Linked DNA regions of Homo sapiens: region 1 is linked to region 2. A link means that fine-mapping ties the variant in region 2 to the expression of a gene that starts in the linked region. Tissue or cell type: blood mononuclear cells. Region 2 holds a variant in brackets; the other region holds the start of a gene. All regions are shown on one strand. Distances are from middle to middle.

What was found. PIP is the estimated chance that this variant, and not a neighbour inherited with it, causes the effect.
Region 1: LRRC7 starts here. The variant in region 2 is fine-mapped to the expression of LRRC7 in blood mononuclear cells (TOPMed, PIP 0.94).

The regions. Positions count from the first base shown.
Region 1 is chr1:69,562,484-69,573,293 of GRCh38, reverse strand. It overlaps LRRC7 (leucine rich repeat containing 7), which reads right to left and starts at 5,372. Exons shown (of 27, transcript NM_001370785.2): 1 at 4,653-5,372. The coding sequence starts at 4,654. LOC105378789 (a long non-coding RNA gene) reads right to left here. Exons shown (of 12, transcript XR_947488.3): 12 at 7,444-9,687. RefSeq lists a silencer at 5,719-5,948.
Region 2 is chr1:69,624,820-69,635,629 of GRCh38, reverse strand. The region is part of intron 1 of LRRC7 (leucine rich repeat containing 7); the gene reads right to left. Among named protein-coding and RNA genes, the nearest start is that of LRRC7, 62 kb to the right of the region's middle. The variant A/G (reference allele first, on the strand shown) is at 5,417.

The DNA.
Region 1 (10,810 bases), 62 kb after region 2:
ATGCCATGAAGAAGAGAGCACAGAATGGGGAAAAATGAACAGGGGCCAAATCTGGGCTTAAATCTTGGCCCATCACTTTCCACGTGGCATGGATTTGCCACTTGCTGTCTCTGAGTTTCAGTTTTCTAATCTTCAAAACAGTGAGAATCATGCTTCCTGTAGGATTATTTTGAAGTAAAGCACATGACTCATGGTAGGAGTTTAGCAAGCAGTAACTTATTATAATTATGATTACAGTTCAGGTACTATGGTAGGGGAGGCAGTATGACAAGTGATGTTCATGGATTTCTGAGCATATTCACTTTTTTTGAGATAGGAAATAGACATATTTGATTATTTAAATGGCATGCTTTTAATTACACCATTATATAATATACATAATTATACTATGCTATCACTAAACAGAACCACACACACACATACCCCACACACACATTACTACAGAAAAACTAATCTATACAAAAAAGTTTATACTTCACTCTTCTAAAATTTCCAAACCACATTTCATGTACCCCTTTGTCTTCTTTGGTATGTCCTGCAGTTATAAAATAGTAATTATTGCCACCTCTATTTTATCTTGTTAAAAGAGATGTATTACCTAAGATTGCATATTACTTCTAGACATACCTAAGTTTTTCTTACTCCTCTTTCACTATCTCAGGGTAATACTCTACAGTTGTTTCTATAAAAATGTAATTATTTCTAATGATTCAAACCTGAGTCACATAAATAACATGGTTAAAAGCCACATAAAGAAAAAATACTATTGATTTGTGGCAACCATCATTCAAACATTGTTGATTTATAGTGCCACTTTTCATTCTGAGTTTTTATTGACAATTCACAAATAAGTTTTTTAAAACATATGTGAAGCCTGTCTATGAATCTCCTTCTTTTGATTTAGGTATTTGATTTAATTACAATAGCTTATATAATTTGCTTTTTTGTTCCATCAGAATATAATATAATTTGCTTCATTATAGGTTTAAATTGCTATCTTTATATTAAAATTTTATTTCTTAATATTGAAACATTGAAAACTCTCTATTGAAGACTGATGTTGACTGCTAAATTAAAGAAATTCAGAGTGAAAACTTCAACATTCTCCAAAGAGCCTAGAGTCATCTCCAATGATATCTTTCCGTGGCAATAAAAATTAGTTAATGGTAACTCGGCTTGTCATAAACTAAAAGTCTGTTATATGTCACAGATTTGAATTAACATTCCCCTAAAGTCATCTTGCAAATTTACATGGCTCCAAAAAAGAATGTGGATGATACTCTGCAAAGTAGTCACTGTTATTAGAGACAACAAAATACACCAAATAATGTCTTTCAGTGGTAGTGTGGCTATTATAACTACTGTGTTCAACAGCATATATGTTTGAAATAATTTTTTCAAAAAACTATGAAATAATTTGTGTGAAGAAAGAAAATGTAATAAGAATCCATAAATAATTCAGATGATAATTCATCAATAATTGGTTACTCTTCGTGTAGTCGGTTAATCTGAGTAAGCAATGAAGTTATAATCTCGTGGAATGTGTGATTCCTTCTTATATTGGGGCCACAGTCATTCAGCAAATAAAATTTTAGTATCTCTAAGTGTAATTTTGATACATCAATTAAAACCTAACATCAATATTTTATCTGTTCTAAAAAGTGAATGTTTTAAAGTTGTGATTAACAAGACCAAGTTTTTGTATCAAATATTTAATCATGTACTATATGCTGAAATAAGAGAGATCTACAAGTACCACTGGAATGAACATCATATAGATAATATAGTTTATTACTTTCATAAGCAATAACATTCATATTAATTTATATCTTCGTGATTTTTTGAAATCCAAAGAAAACAAAAATGCAGATGCACAAAAACACTTTAAGCTTATGTTCTGTATTTTATAAGGGAATTAGAAAAATTAAAAGCTTAAAAAAGAAAGTGGAATAAGAATTTAATTGGGAAAATGTTAATGACAGCCTAAAGCTGCACTAAAATTCTGAATAAAACATGGCTACTGCAACTGGACCAGGTTTCTTTATGAAGTTGTTTCTAATTCTAAGCTGCATATGTGCAGACACAAGTGATGTAGAATTTATGTGTTGGCCATGGTAAGTACACATTTTTTCTTGGATAGTCAGTTTTTTCTTAAAAATGTATAAAGAACTCTCACCTCATAATAAGTCATGAAAATTGACTGTTTTTCTTATCATTACATATTAGTATGATGCAATGCAGCATAACACATAAATAAACCACCTTTTAAAAACTTTAGCCTACTAAGATGGATTATAAAACATTAAGTGAAAATGAAATAAGAAATCTCCAAGTCAGGTAACTCTAAATGTTGGGTCATAAACAAGTTATATCTCCACTAAATTAATAAATATTCTGACCTCAGGACATTTTCCACAGGCCTGAGACACCTCAGAAGTCCAAACTCAATCACTAAACACACCCCCAATATACTTTAGCCATATGACTCTTAAGGAAACATAAAATCATTCCTACATCCCTATTTGCTCATTTTTCCCCCTGTGCAATCAATGATTTCTAAAAAGTAAAGACTTCATTGCTTTACTGTCTTTTGTAAAAACAAACAAACAAAAAACAACAAACAAACAAAAAACACCTCGTGGTAGTTCCCTTAGAGTCCTTCCTGGAAGCCAATTCAAGGAAGCCTGGACGGAGGCGTGACACTTGGACTGGGAAGGTGGTGTAATCTGTTGCGAATCACAGCAGGTTCTGAAGTGCTGGAGAACCCACGTGTGCAGGGGCTGGAGAACTTTTCCACCGTCTCCCAGAGGAAATGCCTCATTTTAAAATAGGGGGCTGGCTGGAGCAAGGGGTGGGGGTGAAGGGTGGGCGGTAAAAAAAGGCAGAGGCGAAGCTTTCAAACCGTTCACGCATGTCTACCTGTGCTTATTTTCCCTCTATTTCGCCTCCGATCAACTTTATTATTATTATTATTATTATTTTCCTTCTATAGGAGGACTTAAGCAACCAGGATGCTGAACATCTCATAGGCTCAGGCTGGAACAAAGAAAATCGAGTTCCTAATACTGTATCTCACCCGTTGGAGGGATCACGTGTCCTGCTTTCGCTGGAATGCACTCTTCTCGCCCACGCTATAAAAATCTCTATTGTGCTTAGAAATTTCGCCTAGGTTAGAATATGCTCACAAAAAATTGCTTTTCATCCACCAGGAGAGCCACATTTCGACATATACAGATACAAATCTATTTACCTGCTGACCCAGTTACCACTGCAGGTAAATTCGATGTGTTGAAAGAGTATTGGGAAAGTAATTGAAAAGAGCAGGGGGAGGACCCCTGTGTCTTACCGATCCCCACCCCCATCGCTTTTTTTTTTTTTTTTTTTTTTGTAATTCCTTTTGAAGGAGAACTTCGAAAGGAACGTGGGAGTCGCAGATGGTTCCTTTCTGAAGCCGATTCCTGGGAGTTGTGAAAGTGACCCCGTCTCTTCTCTGCCTCGAGCTGTGCCCTCTCGCCCAACCCGCTCGCTTTATGACTTGATGGGGAAGAGACAGCCAGAGAAGAGCCGGAGTAGAGGGCGGAGGCGGGTCCTTTATTCAGCCCTGATGGCCGAGAAGTAGTGTAAGGAAGCAATCTTTCAGCCATCTCCGTTATTATGAAGTCACACTATTTTAAAAGGCAATCTATACAGTCCCCCAACCCCCGCCCCCATTCTTGACTCTGCAAACAGTAAGATTAGAGACCACTGGTAGCCAATCTAATAGTCCACGAGCCAGGGTGCCATGATTACCTTAATGCTAATGTGCTTCCCTCCCTCTTTCCACGTCGAATCCGAAACACGTCCTGCATCCTTAATAACTCGGAGAGGAGGACGCAAGATCCTCAAGGGGACCCAGCGCTGGATTGGGAATAGGCAGGTTCACCAGCTTCTCGTGCCACACAAAGGAGATGTGTGGGCAGGAGTTGTCTAGCTGACAGGGAGGGAGGCAAGGTTCTCCCTGACTCCCAGGGAACACGCTCCCCCACTTCTTTCCGTCCTCCAGTCTTTCATGTTCCTTCGTCCCCTCCATCCCCCCAAACCCCACCCTTTCCCTTCAATCCCAATCACATAAAAATCTTCTAATTGTATTTTTTCAAACAGACATCGAGACATTGATACAACACCTTCCAAGATAAAGAGACAAGTGCGTCCTGCCACAAGTGTGTGTGAGTGTGTGTGTGTGTGTGTCACGATCAAACACGCGCTTCATCCCTCAGACACCTCTGGGAAAAAAGCTGACTGGAGATACCCAAGATAATAACGAGGAGCTAAACCTAATTTCAGCGGAACCAATGGTCCCAGCACCAGCGCCCAACATTTACCTTTCCTTTTCGCAGTATGTAACCCTTTAAGGTCTCTTGCCAGCTCAAGCTACTCGGTGCTCCCATGCACCCGCCCAGTTAGCACCCCATTTCCAAATGCTCTGCAACCTACCACATCTTCGCCGCCTCCCTCGGCCACCGCACAAGCAGCTCCCCGCGAGCGCCGAAGCCTCCCGCCCTGCCACCCCCGCCCCCGGCCGGCCTCTGGGGTCCCACACCTCGCGCGCCTACGGTCGCCGCGGCCGGGCCCCCGCAGCACCCTCCGCCACGGAGCGAGCGTGCCTTACTCACATCGCCGGCGGGAGAAACTGCCCATGAGGTTTCGGAGAGCGTAGTCGTGCAGCTGCCAAGGGTTATTCCTTAAGTGTTCAGGGGTCCGCAGTGGAGTGGGCGCCAGGGTCTTCGGAGGAGAAGAGGAGGGAAGGAGTAGAAGGTAGGAAGAACAGGAGATAGAGGGGAATCCAGGAAGGTGCCACGTTAGACCATGATGCCAGTGCCCTTCAGGTGGACGGCTGGAGAGGTTCCCGCGGGAAGCGGCTGAGGGGAAGCCCGAAGCGCCGGCGGGGGAGGCAGGAGCGCGTCCACTCCCCAGCCTCAGCCTGCCCAGCGCGCCGCGCTAGCGACCGCAGCAGCAGCGGCGGCGGCGGCGGCGGTGGCGGAGGCGCAGCTCCCTCCCCGCCCCCAGAAGGCTCCACAGACAATAAATCCTGGGCGGAGAAGAGACAAGCAGGAAAGGCGAATCCTGCACCCAACTCCGTAACAACCCCTGCCCGTTGCCGCGCCTGTGCAGGGCGAGGATCCCCAGGGGCCAGGGCGCAGCGGGCGTCTCGGAGGGGCTGAGCGCTCCGCAACTGCAGGAGGCGGTGGCGGTGGCCCGAGTGGGCGGCTGCAGGTCCCGCCGGCGAGAACCCGCTGCACTGGGGCTGGGTGTCCGTGGCTTCAAGCCCGGTGTTCACCCGGAGTAGGGTCCTCCTCGGTGCAGTGGCTCGGCGCACAGGTGCCAGGATTGGCAGGCGAGGAGGCGCCGCTCATGGCTCTTGGCTGTGTCTCACCGCTCTCCCCGCCCCCTCTCTTTTTTCCCACCCCCTTTTCCGACGACACCAGCTGCAGCTGCTTCAAAGTGTGAAAAATGTCAAGGAGATTTTCCAATGATAGGAGGGGGTAACCATGTTCACAACCCTCGGTCTCTTTTTGAGATCCTCGCCTGTCCCTCTGACCTCTACTCCGGCTCCCCCAAATTATGAGAAGAAAAATCCCAGTCCTGCACAGGATTGAAACGCTAGCCTTCTCCCGGCTCCGTCACGATAGGCTGCTTTTCGAGAACGGGACGAGAGGCCGAGCTCTCTGGGTTCCTCTCGCCTCCGTGGTGTTCGAGGCAGGTGGCACGAATCTCAGCGCGGGGCGGAGCGCGGCTGCCGGCTCCTCCCGCTCGCGGGCCAGCCCCGGGCGCTCGGGCAGCGCGGCGCGGCTTTCTGCAGCGCGGCCGCCTGAGCGGCAGAAGCGGCTCCCGGCCTGTGCGCCTGCCTGAGCGCCCCTGCACCCGCACTAGCTCAGTGACGCTGAGCTCGTGGCTCCTCAGGCTGCTGCTCCTGCTATCTCAGCAAAGAGGCGGCCGGGAGCGCCTCCTCGGGGTTTCCTCCCCCGCCCGCCTTGCCTGCTGCAGGTTGTTGGCTGCCAAGGAGAAAAGTCTCCGCTTGTGCGTCAGGTCGCTTCACATCAGTCATGGCAGCGAACCTTGTGCCTGCTCTTAAGTCCTCTCCTCATTCTGGGGTTGCGGCTGCTGCCCTGGGAGTGCACAAAAAGGGAAGGGTTTTCCCAACTTCCCTTCATATATTCACCGCCCCTCCTCCTGCCATGAACATTCTCTCTGACACACACACACACACACACACACACACACACACACACACACACTCTCTCTCTCTCTCTCATATGCTCCCTTACGTAAAGGCACACACACTTTCTTCTTATACGCTTCTCTAAAGTCCCAGAAGCAGCAAGACATATCAATGAAGCTAGTACTATATTTACACTTTTTTTTTTTTTTTTTGAAACGGAGTTTCGCTCTTGTTGACCAGGCTGGAGTACAATGGCGCGATCTCGGCTCACTGCAACCTCTTCCTCCCCGGTTCAAGCGATCTTCCTGCCTCAGCCTCCCGAGTAGCTGGGATTACAGGCGCGTGCCACCACGCCCGGATGATTTTTTTTGTATTTTTAGTAGAGACGGGGGTTTCACCATGTTGCCCAGGCTGGTCTCGAATTCCTGACCTCAGGTGATCCACCTGTCTCGGCCTCCCAAAATGCTGGGATTATAGACGTGAGCCACCGTTCCCAGCCTATATTTACACTTTTATTCTCTACACACATCTAATGAATTACATCTTTAAAAAAGGATATATTATGCTGGTATTCTTTTGTGGAATATAGGCTATGTGGTTTTTGTTTCTTCATTACAAGAGAGAAAGAATCTTGTCTTTAGTTCTCTAACCTCGAACACAGTCAAGACTGTGCACAGCATTCAAATGCCACTCTGGGGGTGTGTGTAAGCTCACAGTTTGCCAAAAGAAAACACACCTGATTGTATTCTTAGATTTGGAATGCTAAAGTCTTCAAGGTCAAAAATTATGTTTCCTGGCTGCTAGAAATTGTCTAGGAAGAGACTTGAGAGACTGGCACCTAATGTGCGGAGGACCTAGAGAGGAATTATTGCCCACTTTATCTGGGCCATGAAGGTGGGCTGACTTTTAAGGACAACTTGCCAGTGTTTCATATCATTTGCATATAGAAAGGAAAAGGAGTATATTTTGAAAAGCCAGATCGTTTTTTATATTGTTACAAAACACCAAAAGAAAGGGCTCTGAAAATGGCAAGGAAATGGAATAAAATTGTTAAAAGAATTTTTTTTGAATTGACTACTGTTGTGCTCTGTTTTTTTTTCACCTATAGTGTTGTCCTTTTAAACATTTTGCCACATCTCAATGTCTCTGCTGGATGAAGTGACATGAAATATTTTAGGTGCTGATTAAAAATGTATTGACAAAATAACCTGGCGCAACAATTACACAATTATAGCGGTCCTTTATGGGTTTCCAGTTCTTTTTAATACAGTCAACACAGTACTTTCACATATATTCTTTCATTTAATCCTTTCTTAAATCTAGGTGGTGGATAATCTAATCCACACTTACAGGAAGGGCACAAAGGCTCATCTCATAAGGGTGTCCAGTTGCCCTGCACTTGAGCCCAGAATTTCTTATTTTAACTTCAGGCTTCATTGTTTTGTATCAAAATATTTGACAAAAATTATTCTGTTTAAAAACACAGCCAGTTATGAGTAACTGCAGATCCTTGCATACAGGCAGCATACCTACCAATGAAGTTACCTTCTGTGTGTTAAGTGGAAGTAGTTTCCTACGTGGAAACAAACGTATTCCTTTCCAATGGAGAAAAAGATAATTTTGGAACCCCGAATTAAAAATTGATGGTGCTGATATAACACATTTCAAACTACATGTCCTCCTTTCCCATTTATCTTGTCCTAGAATCTTGATTTTGGACCATAAAAATCCAATGGATAAAATACTTTAAATATGTTCAGATGTCCACCTAATTGTTATGGGTTTTAACAAACAGGATTATAAGGTGTAAAGAGAAGGTATTCTCTTTAGAATAAGCTTTGAATACAACGGCTCCATATTTTTGTAAGATTATGAATCTTGAACAAAATCTGGCCACCTTTACTATTTAAACAATGAGACATTGAAGAGATTTCAGTGGTTTCATAGAATTATGGAACTATTGAAATGCAAATGCAGGTGCTGTCTTTAAACTTCAAGCTGCCCTGTCATCAACCCTCTGGAAATGCAGATGACTGTCTAAAAATTGGAGAAAGATAAATGCTAAATATACTTTGGATGTTGTTCAAGCAGAGGCCCAACACTAAAAACTATCACCATTTTACAAATTAGATCAAGGCAGTTTTAACAGATTTGATGTTCCTATTACATCTATAAATGTTTAGACATTAAGGCTATAAAATTTTGCAAGTTGTTAATCAATTTCTTTGACCCACACTGCTAAAATCTTTGAAATGATAATGCTTCTTAGGATAAGCAAGACTAACCTTATTTGAAAATAAAACTCATGGCGATATTAAACAATAAGATGTCAAATATCTTTGAATATTTCCCTTTGGATGCCTGAAATGCTACACTTGTCGTAAAAGATATCCCCTTTGGCAATTACTCATTAAAATAAAAGTACATATAGACAGGATAACACTTTTAGTTTTTGAGTTGTTAGTATCTTAACAGGATTGGCTTAATTAGATACTGGTAATTAGGGAAATAGAAAACATTACTGAATTTTGATGCATGAAGATGAAGGTCTGAAAACCTCAGAGACAGTAGACCTTAGTAAGACAGGATCAGTATGAGTGGGGTACTGTAAGGGTGGACAGTGATGCTTTGTTGTGGTTAGTTTTTGAAAAACCAGGCTGAGGTTCTGAATAGAAAATGGAGGTAGGTCATTAAGATTTTTCTTCAAATGAATTTGTTAGAGGGCTTTTACTATGAAATTGGCCTCTCAAATTAACAATCTGTTCTAGCTAAAGAAAATGCTTCTTTATTGTGGATTTTAATTCATTTGAATAATTATTTTGTAAACATTAATTTGCCTAAGATGAAAAAATACAGTGACCACTGATATACCCATTATGCCCATTAAGAAAGCATTATGGATATGACTGAAGCCTCCTCTCCCATTCCTCTCTCTGTCCACCCCATTCCCCCACACACAAAAGATAACCTCATTTCTAAATTTTGTATTTATTTGTACATTTATACATTCATACATTTTGTGCACTTTGAGTACTAACAATATTTTTGTATCGCTTAGCATAGGTAACCCTTATATAAATGATATAATACAGTATGCATTCTTTTGCAAATTGCTTTTGATTTTTAAAATATCAACATTATGTAAATAATAATGATTCATATTCATATGTGTCACTCTGGTTGACTGATTTTTGATGCTGCATAATAGTTAATTGTATAAACTCACCACATTCACATTCTGATGACAGTTTTTACTATTATAAGTAATACTGTTGGGAACATGTTTGTTTATATCTCTTTATGAATGTGCATAAAAATTTTTCTAGTTAATGTATCACCTAGGAGTGGATTTCTGTTTCAGGGTATGATACAGTCAATATTAAATTGTTTTTCACATGGTTTACAGTTTTATTAGTATTTGTAAGAGTTTTTCTTGGTCCACACTCTGGCAATACTTGGTATTATCAGACATTTTCATGTTGTCCAGCCTAAGGGGTGTAAAAAGGTACTTTATTAAGGTTTACATTCACATTTCCTTTCTTACTTATGAGGTTGAGCAGCTTTTAATAGGTTTACCATTCCCATTTTCAATATGAATTGCTTATTTATATATTTCACTAATTTTCATTGGGTTTTCTTGATTTGTATATCTATGTCTGTGTGTGTAGCCTAGATTTTAATCCTCTGTCAGTTGTATCACTTCTTTGACTTTCAATCTTCATATGGTGGTGTATTTTTATAAAAATAAGCTATAATTGATAACTTTATCAATACTTTCCTTTATGGAATATGCTTTATATCTAGCTTAAGAAAACCTTTATTACCCCCCCCTCCCAGGTTATGAATGTATTTTTCTATGTTGTATTCTAAAAGGCTTACAATTTTAATGTTTTACCTTTTAGACTTTAAATCATCTGAAATTGATTATTTGTATGGTGTGAGGTAGGGATTCATTTTACTTTTCTACTTTCCTCCCCATGGAATGAATGCTTGCATTACTGCATAGCATATCATGTATCAGTTCATTGGTTTATTTTTGGGGATGGGCAATTTGTTCTTTCTATTCTATGCAAGTTGAAAACTGAAAAAACTGTCCTGATTACTCAAGCTTTATAATCAGCACTGATATCTAGGGAGAACAAGGAGCCTCATCTTGTTCTTCAAAATGTTTGACTATTCTTCATCCTTTCTTTTTGTACTATTAATTTTTAAGCATGATGCAAATTCATAATAGTTTTTAAAATTTTTCTCACACCACAAGTCTTTTAAAAACAGATTGCTATTTCACAAGACCTTGTTCTGTGTAGTGTTATAACAAATTAGCAATTCTGTCTCACAAGAAATTCAGACTAAATTTATCATGCCAGTACTCCAACAGAAAGTTTACCTTAGATAAAAACTGAGTAAAAAGGCTAGTCAAGAATGAAATATATCTTTAAAAACAATGTAGATAACTTCACCAACACATTACCGTATACAAACATTCTGAAAAAGTCTCTGCCATCTCTAGGTGGTTTTATAGGTATACAAAAATTTTAAATGCTTTTTTTTCATTCTAAAATGGATATTATGTAGTTAAAGCAAGCAAAAGTTTTCCTAATTCTAAAATTG
Region 2 (10,810 bases):
CTGTAAAATAAATTTCAACAGGAAAAATTCCAATTATTTTTATTACAAAAGCATTTTAGATGGATAAACAATTAAAAAATCTTTTTTTGTCAAAAATACAAAGTTTGCATTGTTTGGTTATCTATACCATTTATTACCTCTGATTTTTGCTTTTTGACCTTATCTATTATCTATTTTAGATTCTCAAAATAACTGCATTATCCTTTTAAATTCAATGCACCAAAATTATTCCTGCCATAATAAACATTGTTAAAAAGCAGTTTTAATAGAATTCTTTTTAGTCTTTTGGTAGTTATGGATTAATCACTTTCGCTAAGCTTAAAGCAAACACTAAATACACCATGGAATACTATGCAGCCATAAATAAGAATGAGATCATGTTCTTTGCAGGGACATGGATGGAGCTGGAGGACATTATCCTTAGCAAATGAACACAGGAACAGAAAACCAAACACTGCATGTTCTCATTTATAAGTGGGAGCTAAATGATGAGAGCACAAGGACACATAGAGGGGAACAAACGCTGGTGCCTTTTGGAGGGTGGAGGGTGGAGGAGGGAAGAGATCAGGAAAACAAGTTATGGGTATTAGCCTGATGAAATAATCTGTACAACAAACCCCCGTAACACAACTTTGTCTATGTAACAAACCTGCACATATATCCTTGAACTTAAAATAAAAAGTTTAAACAAGCAATTTTAAATACTTGAATGTCAGACATTTTCTGCTTCTCACTTCTCAATTTTCCGCTCAGTCAAATTTTCTTTTATGTGTGCTTCAGTCTGCGGCCCAGTCTGACTCTGTCATTAGGATCACTGGCTTTCTGTAATCATCTTTAAGTTTAAAAACCATCCCAGAAGCTGAGATGCCAGTGGCTGCATTGTGCCATGTCCAAAGTACCCTAAGAAAGGTGGTCACAGGAATTGTGTACATACAACCAGAGCTCAAAGCTAAGAGAGAAAGGGTAATTTGGATTTCATAGACATAAAGGAACAGAAATCTAATGGAATTCATAGTTAGGTTGACAGAGTGAGCATCTGCTTATCCGGAAAACATAAAAGTTACAAGGTTTCAATAGAACCATAAATCAGGTATGAACAGCATTATTCTTCCAGAACCAAGAAGTATTTTTAGGACTCAAAGCATAGATGAAAACTGTCACAGAAGAGCTGGGCCACATGGGAAAACAGATTCTTAAGGAATCTATCTGCAACATTTTAAAATGATTATCTCAAAGATCTTGCAGACCGCATGAATATATAATGTATTATCTAAAGTTTTCAAAATCAACATAAAATTAGATGACAATATAGCTTGTAGCTATAGCAAGCTCTAGAGCCAGACTACTTAGGAACACTTCATGGCTCTTTCACGTTTTACTCTTGTGACCTTAACAAATCACTTATAATCTTTTTATGTCTCAGTTTCCATATCTGTAAAATGAGTATATTCATACTCTTTATCTAGTTGGACTATTATAAAAATTAAATGTATTAATAGATAAAATTAGAGTAGCACATGACAGATTGTAAGTACTTTCAAAATGTTAATTTTTTATTAAATATTAGCTTTAATGTCACTAAGTATAAGTGAGTTAAATTCTTCTAACATGTTGAAAAGACTCAGACTGGATCAGAAAACAAAGTACAACTATAAGCTATTTATAAGGGTCACACTCAAAACAAAATGACAGGAAAGATTAAATGTAAAGTTTAGACAAAAATATATCAGCAAACAAGAAGAAAAAAAGAAATCAAACATTAAGATAATATTATTTAAGAATTATTTCCTCTTGCCAGGGTGAGGGGTCTGCTAGCCCCATGGCAGGCCCTAGATTAAAAAATAAATAAGTAAAATAATAAAAAGAGTTTTTATAAAATATAACCTTTTAAAAGTATGTTTGGCTGGGCACGGTGGCTCATGCCTGTAATCCCAGCACTTTGGGAGGCAGAGGTGGGCAAATCACTTGAGGTCAGGAATTCATAATCGGCCTGGCCAACATGGTGAAATACTATCTCTGCCAAAAATAGAAAAATTAGCTGGATATGGTGGCACATGCCTGTTATACCACCTACTTGGGAGGCTGAGGCAGGAGAATTGATTGAACCTGGGAGGCAGAGGTTGCAGTGAGTTGAGATCGCACCACTGCATTCCAGCCTGGGTGACAGAGGGAGATTTTGTCTCAAAAATTAAATAAATAAATAAATAAATAACAAAAAAAATTAAAAGCACATTTTAAAGCAAATCACCTTAAATTGGACAGATACAGTAATATAATTTTGATAAAAAGATAAAGTTATTCCATAATCATTAATCTTTAACAATAACAGGACATTAACATATAATCTGTATAAGTGTTGGAATCAAGAAAATTAAAATAAAAAGGACAGTAATTGTAGATTTAACTCATTTTTTAAGAAAGCATTTTACAGAACTTGTAAACAAAAAATATATAAGGAATGACACCTGGATATTATATTATTGTTGATTTAATAGTTCCAGGTCAAACTTGGTATCTTATGGAAACTTTATGAAGTAATCATGGAAGATTTAAAAATATTACTCAGATATTATCCCACAAAGAAAGACTTAACAAGTTTTCAATAGTACAATTGTAAATACTCTATTTCTGTGATCTCATTGCATTAAAATTACAAAGTATTAATACAAAGCAAAAAGGAAAGAAAAAACTTTCAATTATTTGGAAATTATAGAAATGCTCTACTTAACTCTTGGACCAAAGAGAAAATTAAAACTATTTAATTTTTAATTAATTTTACTTCTAAAATTAGAAACTACTTAGCAAAATGGTAGTCATAAAATTACATATTTATTCATTAATCCCATATATAGTCATTATTCTAGTCACTGAGACTCCAATAATGAACAAGATAAATTCGGTACTTGCTTGGATGGCACTTAGTGTCTGCTTGGGGAAAAGTGAGAGGCATTTACTCATTAACTCAATCACTCACTCACTCAATAAACCCAAGTCAACAAATAACCACAGTGGGGCAAAACACTATGAGAAGAGAACAAAATATGATGATAATAGAACAGTGATTTGGAGTACTAAAAGACGTTAAAGGGAAAATTAATGTAAAATGGCTTCTTGAAAAATAAAATCAGTAAAGTGGGCTTTATCTCTCTAATTACATAAAATGATTAATCAAAATTAAATACAATTTAGAAGGAATGATAGAGAAAATTTAAAATGCTATAAGGGAGTACTTGGCACTCAGCTAACTGTAAATTTAATAAATATTTATAAGCCATATATCACAGTGCAAGTATTGTGCTAGGTGCTGAGGACAAAACTGTGTCCTATCCTCACATAGCTCAGAGTCTAGTGTGGAAGCTACAATGTGAAGTATCTGGGGAAGTACAATATAATGTGATCATTGCTGGAGGGATGGAGGGAAACAATGGGTGCTGTGGGCACATGGGAGTGGCCACTTGCCACAGGAAGAAATGCATGGGGTCCTAGCCAGAGGGAACAGCTTGCACAAAGTCACTAAGGTTATAGAGAAGACATTTTATTAGATAACCTAAAGATTCAGACTGGCTGATGCAGAGAGAAGAAAAATATTTAAAAATTTAAAAAGAGGCTGTATTGGAAAAGGAGGAAAGACTTTAAATCAGAAAGTCTTGTAAGACATGATAAAGGTTTTTATTTAAACCTTAAGTCAACAAGGGAGGCTTTGGAGTGATATGAGTAGGAAACAGACATGATCAGATTTAAGATTAAGATGTATACTCTGGCAAGAGAGTTGAAAACAGACTCTGAACACACTGAGCAGGATGATTATGAGTTTGAGTTTATCAAGCAGCCAGCTAGAGTGTAGTAAGATCCAAAGGTAGAGATCGGGCTTTTAGGAAAAGTGGTAGAAGAAGCCTAAACACTTCACTATTATCTAATTGAACAGAGCTCTGCATTGAGGGTTATCTCACACCAGCCCACCTTTGATAACAAAATGGCATTTTCTCTTTACTTTTTGGCAACTCTTGCCAAAAAAGCTCTCATGGGGCTTTACGGAGAGGGGAAAGAAGCGACTGTCGGGGGAGGACCTTGGCCTCCCTGGGGCCCTGGCCATAATGATGTCAAACAAAACTAGAACATCACCCCCATCCACAATCATCAAGATGACATCACACCTTGAGATAAACCTTGTAGCTACAAGTCAGAGTTTTAAAAAATGAGGAGAGATGCTGTCCTATGGCAAAACTCTGAAGAATATCAACAATGAGATGATTTGAGTTCAAGGCGTGTAAAGACTGAGTAGTAGTCAGAAAGCAAGGACCAAAATGGGTAGGATATGGTATCATGTAAAACAGCAGAAAAAAAAATTTCATAGAAAATGTGCTTACTTTGGTCATTTGCAGCCTTGGTAAGGGCAAGTTAAGTCGACCAGTGAAGACAGAAATCCACATTGCAGTGAATTAAGGTATAATAGGGTTTCGAAAAGTGCAGACATAAAGAAAAGATATTTAAGGTGATAGACATTCCAATTACCCTGATTTGATCTGTACACATTATATGGATGTATAAAATTATCACAGGTACTCTGAAAATATGTACTTCTATTAAGGTTCAATAAAAAAAAATGAAAAAAAGAAGTGCAGGCAGTCAATGTACACAATTTCCTCAAAAGGAGTGATTTTTAAAGCATGTAACCCAAAAGCCAAAAAGAAGAAGTTACAGATCTGGCTATATAAGCAATTTTTACAAAATTTTTACAAAATTGCTTATACATCATGTATTTGGCCAATATTTTCTCCTAGTTTGTTGCTTGTCTAATTCTTTTGACAGTTTCTTTCACACAGCAGAAATTTCAACTTTATTTGGTATATCAAGCAATTAAAAAAGAAAAAAATTATAATATTTATTCACAAATGGCTCCAAGAAATATAAAAATAAAAGGGTAAAAGATAGAAAATAGGCATCTAATAGAAAAAGAAATAGCCAATGAATATTTGGAAAGGTGCCCAATATTATTAATCAATAAAAAATTGAAACTGAAGTAAAATGATTAATCAAAAGCATGTACAATTAAAAATGATTGACAGAAAATTTCAGATTTTAGATTAAAACATTTAGATTTTAGATTAAATAATATTCGTTACTAATAACAAAATAAAGGTAGCAAGTATAGGTAAACTGGACTGTAGATGGGCTGGCAATCATTACAGACATTTTATAAGGCAATTTGGCAGTAAGTATCATGCCTTTAAACACTTAACTCTCAACCTATTAATAGGAATTCTGTAAATCTACCATATAGAAATATGTGCTAATTTTACTATTGTTTGAAATAGCACAATATTGAAAACTGTCCACCAATAGGGAAGTGGGCAACTCTTTTAAGAATGTTTGCAGTGGATAGCAGAGAAATAGATTATATATACGGAAGACATCC[A/G]AAGTTGTTTGCTATTAATAGAAAATTCTTGTAGAAGTTAAAATGAGGAAGGAAGGAACAAGAAAATAGAGAGATGTTGGAGATACAGAAAATATGGATAAATGCATGGATGGAGGCAGAATACAATGTAATCTAATGCACAGGCAGAGAAATCACCATTATAGGAAGCAGGACACTGGAGGGAAAAAAAGAGGATAGGTGCACATGCCAAGATGATTATATATTTGGTGACAAGAAATTGATAAATTTCACATCTGATGATGTCTATATTCTCTGTGATTTAAGAAGAAAACTAGCTCAGCTGTTGAGAGTTGAAAGGGTGATAGTGAAGTTAGATTTTGGGAAAGTGACAAAGATAAGAAATAGTTACTGAATAAAATGAGAACAAGAAATTAATAATAAAATATAGAAATATTAACTTTAATAGCATCAATCTATGCATTATTTACTTTCCTCTACAGTTAACATAGGCAGAGAGAGAGGGAAAGAACATGACAGTAATTAAGAATAACAAAGAGAAAGTAATTGAGAATATATTGAAGATACATTGGATAAAGTGACATACTAAAGAGTCAAAACTATGTCAAAATAGAGATGAAATAAAGAGAATTTGGAGAGAGAAAGTGTAGTCATCCTGGGACTAGAATCTCTGTGTGTTTGAATAATAGGTTATAGACCAAGTGACTGAGCTTGGAGACGTGCAGGTTGCAGAGTGGGATGCTTAAGTGTACGGTTACAAAGAGTTGGTATTTCCAGCTGATAACATGGTTCAAGGCAGGCATAATATACTCCTCGATGGAAATACTGTCTAAATACTATAAATATTTTAATACTTCTTCATTTATGTATTCTTATTTATAGTTTCAAACAAAATCTCTATTCAACTAAAAAAGTTGCCAAAGTGGTATCTGTCCACATCTTTTGCTTATTTTTTAATCAGATAATTCATTTTCTTATGTTGAATATTAATAGTTGTACATCTTGGATAACAGCCTTTTCTCAGTTATGTTTTTTGCCAATATTTTCTCCCAGTTTGTTGCCTAATTCTCTTGACAGTTTCTCTCAGAGAACAGAAATTTCAAATTTTAATGAAATCTTATCAATGATTTCTCTCATTGATCATGCCTTTGGTGTTATAGCTAAAAAATGCACTTCCAAACCCAAGGTCATCTAGATTTTCTCCTATGTAATCTTCTAGAAGTCTTACAGTTTTAAGTTTTACCTTTAGGTCTATAATCCATTTTGAGCTATTTTTTGTGAAGGGTGTAAGGTCTGTGTCTAGATTCATTTTCCTGCCCATATATATCCAGTTGTTCTAGCACATTTGTTGAAGAGACTGTCTTTTCTCCATTGTACTGTTTGTGATTCATTGTCAAAGATAAATTGACTATATTCTATGAGTTAATTTCTGAGCTTTCTATTCTGTTCCACTGATCTATTTGTCTATTCTTTGCCAATACCAACATTGTCTTGATTACTATAGCTTCATAGTAGTTGGAGTTCAGTACTTTCATCATCTGGACTTGGTTCTTTTCCTTCAATATTGTGTTAGGTATTCGTGTGTTTGCCTGTTCACATAAACTTCAAAAACACTTTGTTGATATCCACAAAAGAACGTGATGATATTTTGATTGGGATTACACAGAATCTATGGATCAGGCTGGGAAAAACTGAGATCTTGACAATATTGAATCTTCCTATCTATAAATGGTGAATATCTCTGAGTTTACTTAGTTATTTGATTTCTTTTATCACAGTTTTGCAGTTTTCCTAATATTGATCTTGTACATATTTTGTTAGACTTACACCTAAGTATTCCATTGGGGGAATGCTAATATAGATGGTATTGTGTTTTAATTTCATATTTCACTTGTTCATTGCTGTATATAAAAAAGCAACTGACTTTTGTGTGTTGACTTTCTATCCTATGACTTTGGTATAAGCACTTATTCCAAAAGAATTTTTTTTACTCATTCTGACTTTTCATATAGATGACGGTGTTATCTGCAAACAAAGACAATTTTCGTTCTTTCTTTCCAATACATATACCTTTTATTTCCTTCTTTTCTCTTATAGCATTAGCTAGGACTTGCAGTACAATGCTGAGAACGAGTAGTGAGAGAGATATTTTTGCCTCGTTCTGGGAAAGCTTCAGTTTCTCCCCATTAAATATGGTATTAAGGAAACAATTTTGAGAAGACAATGCCTAGTGAAAAGAGGCATATACCAAATATATTAAGTATAATATAAAGCTAACAAAAGTAAACTGTAAACTGTGGTATTTGTAAAAACTGATTATGTTGGAATAATTGGTTAAGCTTTTAGAGCAAAAGGAGTTAGATCTTTATCTTACATTATATACCAAATTATATTCCAATTCAATTAAAGACTTAAATAAAAAACAAATTGAAACCAAAACATATACAACAAAAATTAAGAGAATAATATACTCATGATATTCTCCGAGTGGGAAGACTTTTCTAATGATAAAATTTTAATGTTAGATCTAAAACCATAAAAACCCTAGAAGAAAACCTAGGCAATACCATTCAGGACATAGGCATGGGCAAGGACTTCCTGTCTAAAACACCAAAATCAATGGCAAAAAAAGTCAAAATTAACAAATGGGATCTAATTAAACTAAAGAGCTTCTGCACAGCAAAAGAAACTACCATCAGATTGAACAGGCAACCTACAGAATGGGAGAAAATATTTGCAATCTACCCATCTGACAAAGGGCTAATATCAAGAATCTATAGAGAACTTAAACAAATTTAAAAGAAAAAATCAAACAACCCCATCAAAAAGTGGGCGAAGGATATGAACAGACACTTCTCAAAAGAAGACCTTTATGCAGCCAACAGACACATGAAAAAATGCTCATCATCACTGGCCATCAGAGAAATGCAAATCAAATCCACAATGAGATATCATCTCACACCAGTTAGAATGGTGATCATTAAAAAGTCAGGAAACAACAGGTGCTGGAGAGGATGTGGAGAAATAGGAACACTTTTACACTGTTGCTGGGACTGTAAACTAGTTCAACCATTATGGAAGTCAGTGTGGTGATTCCTCAAGGATCTAGAACTAGGAATACCATTTGACCCAGCCAACCCATTACTGGGTATATACCTAAAGGATTATAAATCATGCTGCTATAAAGACACAAGCACATGTATGTTTATTGTGGCACTATTCACAATAGCAAAGACTTGGAACCAACCCAAATGTCCATCAGTGATAGACTGGATTAAGAAAATGTGGCACATATACACTATGGAATACTATGCAGCAACAAAAAAGGATGAGTTCATGTCCTTTGTGGGGACATGGATGAAGCTGGAAACCATCATTCTCAGCAAACTATCGCAAGGACAAAAAACAAAACACCGCATGTTCTCACTCAAAAGTGGGAATTGAACAATGAGAACACTTGCACACAGGATGGGGAACATCACACACCGGGGCCTGTCATGGGGGGGCGGAGGAGAGGGGAGGGGGGAGGGATAGCATTAGGAGATATACCTAATGTAAATGATGAGTTAATGGGTGCAGCACACCAGCATGGCAAATGTATATGTATGTAACAAACCTGCACATTGTGCACATGTATCCTAGAACTTATAGTATAATAATAATAATCATAATAAAATTTTAAAATAAAGTATTATAAGAAATGTCTACACTAAAGTGAAACTTCTGGAGGAATAAAATCATAAGCAATATTTAAAAATCTGCTTTCATTAATGGTGATGAATGTAATTCAGACCAACCCTTCTAACTGAAAATAGATTTAAAAATCTGGATTTTTTTTTTTTTTTTTTTTAGATTCTAAGTAAATGCATCAGAGAGTTAACAAGGCAGTAAAGAAATATGGGGTCAAGATCCAGGGCAATAAATACCCAGAAAGCTGAGTCTAGCCTTTTCCTCAGGGGCATCTGCCAGTTCTCAAAACATACCATAGATTCTGACAATCTTTTGGGGCCAAAATAAGATCAAGGTCCTCAAGCAAGATGTTCCTGAGGGTTACACCCTAGAAATAAGAATGAATCAGATATTAACGGGTCCCAAGATGGACTGAAATCCATCTCAGAATAATCTCAGATGTTACATAACTAATAATGGAGCCTCATACAAGTTAAGTAAAAGTTTATAGAATTAAAAGCAAAAATAGATCATTTACATAGTGAGAAATTTTCATTGAACAAGCAATAACAAAATTAGTAAGAATATAGGACATTTGAACAATACGATTTTTAAAAAATTATCTTATTTACATCTATAGAACACCAGACCAATGGCAAAACACACATTGTATTCAAATACACATGGAACATACGAGTTTCTTCAAATTTCAAATATTTGGAATTTAGCAAGAAATAATTGGCATAAAGGTAACTAGAAAATTCCAGATGTTTAGAAATTCAGAAAAAAGTATTCTAAACAGCCCCCGGATCAAAGAAGAACTCAAAATACAAATTAAAACATATTTTTGAAACAACAATAATGGAAATGCTACATGCCACATTTGTGGGAATTTTGTAGCTATATTTGTTTATAGCTAAAATCTATTTATAGCCAAACTTGTGAGGTGTTTATAGCTATAAATGAATATATTAATTAAAAATAAAGTCTGGATATAAGTAATCAAGCATTCATTTACAGTTCTTAAGAATAACAGTAAATTAAACATCTAAAAATATAGGAAGGTGGGAAATAGTAAACTTAATAGAATAAATTAATAAAATATCAAGAAAACATAGAGTGCAGATAATTAATAAAACCCAAACTTGGTTCTTCGGAAAGACTGACAAAATTGATAAAGATCCTAAGACTGATTCAGAAAAAAAAATAGTGGAGGTATAAATATCAGGAATTAAAATGAGGCCATCACTATAGGTTCCACAATATAAAAAATTGTTAAAGAATATTATAACCAAGTTTATGCTCACATATTTGAAATCAAAAGACAAATTCCCATAAAATACAGCTTAATAAAATTGACATAAGAGGAGAAAAACCAAAATACTCCTTTTAACTATTAAAGATATTTAATCTGTAATTAAAATCTCCCCACAAAGAAAACTCCTTGCTCAGACGGCTTTAGAAATGAATTTTGCTAATCATTTAAAGAAAAAATAATGCCAGCCTTATACAAATTTTCTCAATAAAAATGACAATTTTTTGAGGTCTTTGACGAATTGTTTCTAAAATGTATATGAAAATGGGGATGGTATAGCTTAGTTTTATGACAGTATTGAAGAATAAGGAAAGAGAATATTCTCACAAATGGTATAAATTAATATAAGGTTACAGTAATAAAGATATATGGTAATGGCTTAAGGACTGAGAAATAGATCAATGAAAAACAACAGTCCAGAAGGTGATTAG